2 separate regions of the Homo sapiens genome follow, and region 1 is linked to region 2. A link means that fine-mapping ties the variant in region 2 to the expression of a gene that starts in the linked region. Tissue or cell type: whole blood. Region 2 holds a variant in brackets; the other region holds the start of a gene. All regions are shown on one strand. Distances are between the middles of the regions. Region 1 holds the start of TLR4 (toll like receptor 4). Region 2 overlaps TLR4 (toll like receptor 4).

Evidence for each region.
Region 1: TLR4 starts here. The variant in region 2 is fine-mapped to the expression of TLR4 in whole blood (TOPMed, PIP above 0.99).

Annotation. Positions count from the first base shown.
Region 1 is chr9:117,702,971-117,705,891 of GRCh38, forward strand. TLR4 (toll like receptor 4) reads left to right here and starts at 1,433. Exons shown (of 3, transcript NM_138554.5): 1 at 1,433-1,595. The coding sequence starts at 1,503. RefSeq lists enhancers at 855-2,054, 1,002-1,502, 1,403-1,452, 1,463-1,532, 1,503-2,003 and 1 more.
Region 2 is chr9:117,724,677-117,727,597 of GRCh38, forward strand. It overlaps TLR4 (toll like receptor 4), which reads left to right. Exons shown (of 3, transcript NM_138554.5): 3 at 1-59. Among named protein-coding and RNA genes, the nearest start is that of TLR4, 22 kb to the left of the region's middle. The variant G/A (reference allele first, on the strand shown) is at 1,132.

The DNA.
Region 1 (2,921 bases), 22 kb before region 2:
AAAATAGATTTACCACATGATCCAGCAATCTCACTTCTGAGTACGTATCCAAAAGAATTGAAAACAGAGACTTTAAGAGATATTTGTACAACCATGTTTATGGCAGCATTATTCACAATAGCTAACGTGTGGCAACAATGCAAGTGTCCATGAACAGACAAATGGATAAGCAAAATGTGGTCTATACATACAATGGAATATTGTTCAGCTTTAAAAAGGAAGGAGGCTTTGATCTATACTACACAGAAAAGAACCTTGAGGACATTATGCAAAGTGAAATAAGCCAGTGACAAAAAGATACATACTGTATGATTCCACTTCTAAGAGCTGCCTAGAGTAGTCAAGATTATAGAGACAAAAGTAGTGCATAGATTCAAGGGCCTAGGGAAAGGGGAAATGGGGAGTTATTTATTAATGAATAGTGGTGATGATTGTACAAAAATATGAACATAATTAATGCCACTAAATTGTACACATACAAATGGTCAAGATAATAAATTTTATGTTATGTCATGTTATGTTATGTGATTTTACCATAATACAGAAAATGAAAAAAGAAAAGAAAGAAAGTAAAGCTTAGCGGTTTACATGACTTGACCAATGCCTCAAAGCCATGAGTCACCCAGCTGAGATCTGAACTTCAGTATATTCCATTCTGAAATCCCAGACTTTTCCCAATCTTCTTGTACTTTTCAAACTGTGTTTCAGTTGAGGTTTATTTTCAGTTTTGTATGTGAGTTTCTTCACAAGAAGGGGCGGGCCAAATTGTGTCCTGCAAAAACCTACATATCGAAGTCCTAACCCCTCTACCTCAGACTATGACTGTATATGGAGAGAGAGCCTTGAAAGAGGTATGTAAGGTAGAATGAGGTCATTATGGTGGGCCCTAATCCAACATAACTGGTGTCCTTATAAGAAGGGGAGATTAGAATTCAGACACACTTGCTGACACCTTGAGTTCAGACTGGAAGCCTCTAGAATTGTGAGAAAATGAATGTCTGTTGTTTAAGCCACCCAGTCTGTGGTATTTCCTTATGGCAGCCCCAGCAAACTAATACAAATAGTGTTTCCACAGCTGAAACAAAATTGGAAAATCACCGTCATCCTAGAGAGTTACAAGGGCTATTTTAATAGAACCTGATTGTTTTCCTAAATTCACCAAGCCCAGGCAGAGGTCAGATGACTAATTGGGATAAAAGCCAACTAGCTTCCTCTTGCTGTTTCTTTAGCCACTGGTCTGCAGGCGTTTTCTTCTTCTAACTTCCTCTCCTGTGACAAAAGAGATAACTATTAGAGAAACAAAAGTCCAGAATGCTAAGGTTGCCGCTTTCACTTCCTCTCACCCTTTAGCCCAGAACTGCTTTGAATACACCAATTGCTGTGGGGCGGCTCGAGGAAGAGAAGACACCAGTGCCTCAGAAACTGCTCGGTCAGACGGTGATAGCGAGCCACGCATTCACAGGGCCACTGCTGCTCACAGAAGCAGTGAGGATGATGCCAGGATGATGTCTGCCTCGCGCCTGGCTGGGACTCTGATCCCAGCCATGGCCTTCCTCTCCTGCGTGAGACCAGAAAGCTGGGAGCCCTGCGTGGAGGTATGTGGCTGGAGTCAGCTCCTCTGAACTTTCCCTCACTTCTGCCCAGAACTTCTCACTGTGTGCCCTGGTTTGTTTATTTTTGCAAAAAAAAAAAAGAGTTAAATTACCTTAAAGACTCAAGAAGCCACAGAGATCAAATAATTCATTGTTACAGGGCACTAGAGGCAGCCATTGGGGGTTTGTTCCATTTGGAAATTTTGAGTGCTAACAGGGGCATGAGATAACATAGATCTGCTTAAGGTCCCTGCTCTGCTACCTTGTGGCTCTGTGAAGAAATTATCAAACCTGTCTGAGACTAGTTTTCGCATCTGTAAGAGAATTATAATACCTTCTTCACTAGAGAGTAAGCAGACTGCTTCAGTGTCATTTCTTCCCACTGGTGGTCTTTACACTCAGCTTCAAGCAGTCACCCTGCTCCTTTCAATCTCAGGAAAAAGATGGCTTTTGTGTGTGTGTCTCTAGAGAAAGAACTTTCTAAGTGGGTGTCAGACTTCTGTATGCAGTAATATAGTTTAGTCCAGAGGATGAAAAAAATAAGAGAATGAAAAAGGAAAAGAGAGAGAGAGAGAAGAAAAAAGCAAGAGGGAAATATGTATAATGTCAGCTAATGCAACAGTTTCTTTCTTAGTGAAATACCAATCAGCTGGTTGGTAATCTTATTCATGATGGATCTCTTTTGTTTTTCCCCTGCGCAGACTTCACAGTTGCTTTAGAAACCCATAGTAGAGCCGAACAGCTAAGAAAATGATTTACAGTGAGGCAGGGTCAGAAACTCAAGAGAGAAAAAGCCAGCTGCAGTCCTGAAGTTGAGGATATAGGAGAAAATCAAGTAATATTTAGCAAAGACTAATTCATTATCTTGAAGCCATCCCTTCCCTCAATTCCCTGCCCATAGTCCTCCTCCTTGTCCTCTTCTCTGTATCCCTCTGCTGTTAGGTTAATGGAGATAGATTTTCTAATTAGGCTCACTGCGAGATAAAACCACAGCCAAACTTGACTTCTTTTCCCCATGTACCTTTTCCTGTCAGTCCCTGAAGCCTGTCCATCCCTGCCCATCCCCTTAGTTCCACTGTAAGGCAGGCCCTCATTTCCCCTGGCATTGACTCTTACACACTAACTGCTTTCCTGATTCCAGTCTTCTTCCTTTAATTCATTCTGCACGTTCTTGTTTGTTATGTACTTGCATTTGTTGTTATTATTTTTCCTTAGGCTTCAATCTAACAAATTACTCTCCTTAAAAACTTTTAATAACTCTCCATTGCCATTAGAACAGCTTTCTACCACAGGGCCTTTGCACTGGCTATTTCTTCTACCTAGAATGCT
Region 2 (2,921 bases):
AGTTTTGTTGGCAGTTCAGTACACGGAAATAAAGTTCTCACTTTCTTTTTTCTCCTTGAGAGTGTTCTTTATTTTACTCATCTGGCCATCTAATATTTATGAAGAAGCTACTCTGTGGTTGAAAAGGCACATGAAGCTGCAGAAGTAAATGACCAAGAAGTGCCCTCAAAGTTACGGAGTTCAGATTCATTTTGGCAAGAGAGGCATGTCAATACACACACACACACACACACACACACACACACACACACACACACAATGTTATGCCAAAATGCAGGGTGGTGGGGAGTGGAGGGTTGTTCTTCCTAGAAGCAATCAGAGAAGGCTTTACAGAGGAGGGCCCATTTGAGCTGGAAATTGTAAAAGAACAGCTCTGCAGATGGATCTTTAAATTCTTAACCTAAAAGAAGAGCAAAAATGTAAATGATAAATCTGGGAAGTAATAAGTAGAAGACCATGTATAGCAGAGTTGAGGAAAGAAACAATATAGTATAAATACTGAATTACATGAAAGCTAATAGTTAATTGGCATCAGTTGACCCTGACAAAGACATTTATCTGGACTATGTCTCAATTTGCTTATCTGTCAGTTAAGGATGATATATTAAATGAGTGCTTATACAAACAAAGTGCTTAAAACAGTGCAAGGCACTTCACAGTCATCAAAAATGCTAATTTTTTGTGTGCTTTCATTATGAAATGGGGAGCATACAGCCCGACAGAAGCCTAGGTAATGTCTCAGCATTAAGCCCACTGGTTTGTGGTGCCTTGCATTTAGGAGGCCCAAGTCCTTATCCTGGTGTTGATACAAACTTCCTGTGTGACACTGGGAAGCTATAACTCAGTCTTGACATAATACAACTTGTTCTTCGGCTTCAAAAACTTTCCCAGAATTGGAGTGACCCTACCCTCCCTTTCAAGAAACAGACAAACATCCTAGAATGTTACAACATAAGGGTTGAAGAAGCTGTTGTTAAGTGATCATCTTGTTACCACAAAATTGTTAAACTGCATAACAGAGTTATGCAATTTCTTCTTCCCCTATTTTTTATTTTATTTTTCCATAAGGTATTGGTATTTCATTACATGAGTAAGTTCTTTAGTGGTGACTTGTGAAATTTTGGTGCACCC[G/A]TCACCCAAGCAATATACACTGCACCATATTTGTAGTCTGTTATCCCTCTCCCTCTTGCCACTCACAGCATTTGGGGTGTCTTCTGGGTCCTGCAGGAGCAGTCCACTTCCTTGAGAGGTTTTGTGGGTCCTCTTGGGAATGTTGGTTTGTTCTTGCAGTCAATTTGGAGCTAAAATTCACAATGCAAGCCTCTGGATGCTGCTCTGTCTGGAGCTGCAATCTAGTCCTGACTCCTCTCTGCCATGATCCCCTCCATACACCTTCTTCTCTTATTTTTATGCCAATGAGTGAAGGCCTCAACCTGGCCTTCCCTGCCTCTTAGTTAGCCTCCTGTTCTGCCTGATGTCACAAGGATAGTGAGAGGCATGGTCTGGATTTGAACCAGATCTACCTGTTCCCACTGCACCATGCTGACTTTGTATGAAGAAGCCACCAGGCTAGTGGTGGTGGTGGTGGTAGTAGCAGTAGTGAAATTCTATTGATAATACTACCTCTACCAATAATAATAAAAAAGGGGAGAGATGGAGGAAAAGGGGTGGAGAATCAAGTGAGGAATCAACTGGAGCAGTTCTACTTGATTCTGTTTTATGTTTTGGGTTTCTTGTTGACGGTTTAGCTTTTGTGATCTTAATTTTTGTTCTTTTTTGTTTGTTTTTGTCATTTCCAAAACTTCTGCTCAGCTTTCTATCCACTATAGGGATTCTTTCTACTACCACAAAACAATAACAATAAAGATCATAATAATGAAAAAATACAACATTCTTAAGTCCATTTATACCAAGTGAAACAGTCTTTTAGCAGTTTTCACGAACCAGGCACTACGTTAGGTGTTTTACGTGCATGATCCCATTTAATATTCCCAACCACTCTGTGAGGCAGGTGTCTTCATCGCCATTTGGCAGAGGAGGAAACTGAGGCTAAGGGAGTTTGAACCGATCCATCCAAACAACTTAGCTAGTAAATTACAGATAGTAAGATGGAAGATTAGAACCCATATGTGCCTAATTCCAAAAGCTGAGCTCTTCAATCCTACCCTGAAATATCTCCTAAGTATGATTGTTCAGATTATGCTAAAAAATCCAGTGACAGAGCTGATTATTTCCTCAAATGTCTCATTTATTGTTTGGCAGCTCTGATGACAGATATAAAGATGGAGATACATAAACTGACTACATCAGTCCGCCTATGCATGAGAGTTGGCCCATTATTTTCACCTGTGATATGGAATAAGAACCAAGAGTTTTTTTTTTACATGCATTTGGATATGATATAAAGGCTTGCTATTGGAGTTGGATCCTGCCCTTTTCTCACCAGGAGATTCTGGCTGGCTTGGAGCAGAAAGCCTTTGTTCTGGGGTAGCAACACCAATATTCTGCCTAGGAGAAGCCTCCTGCAGAGTCTTTCTCTTTTTTTCAGCTTTGTTTGACCCTCAGTAAGGTGCTACTTGAGCTTTCTGGGAGGTAGAAAATGTTAAATGGATGTACACAGATATCCCCTCCTTTGTAAGTTCCATGGGAAATGTTTTAAAATGGGTTCATTGCTGTCTCCCAGTACACTGGGGTAGTGGAATACAATGTGTTTTTACGAAATGGGTGATGGATGTCATATACTCAGCATGGTGCTTGACACATGCTGTGTGGTCTCAACATGTGGTCAGCTTCAGTAACTAGCTGATAAGCAAGTGTTAGGGCAGTAGAATGAATTTCTCATAGGCATGGAAACTAGAAAGGCAACGAAGAGGCTGGGCTCAGTGGCTCACACCTGTAATCCCAGCACTTTGGGAGGCCCA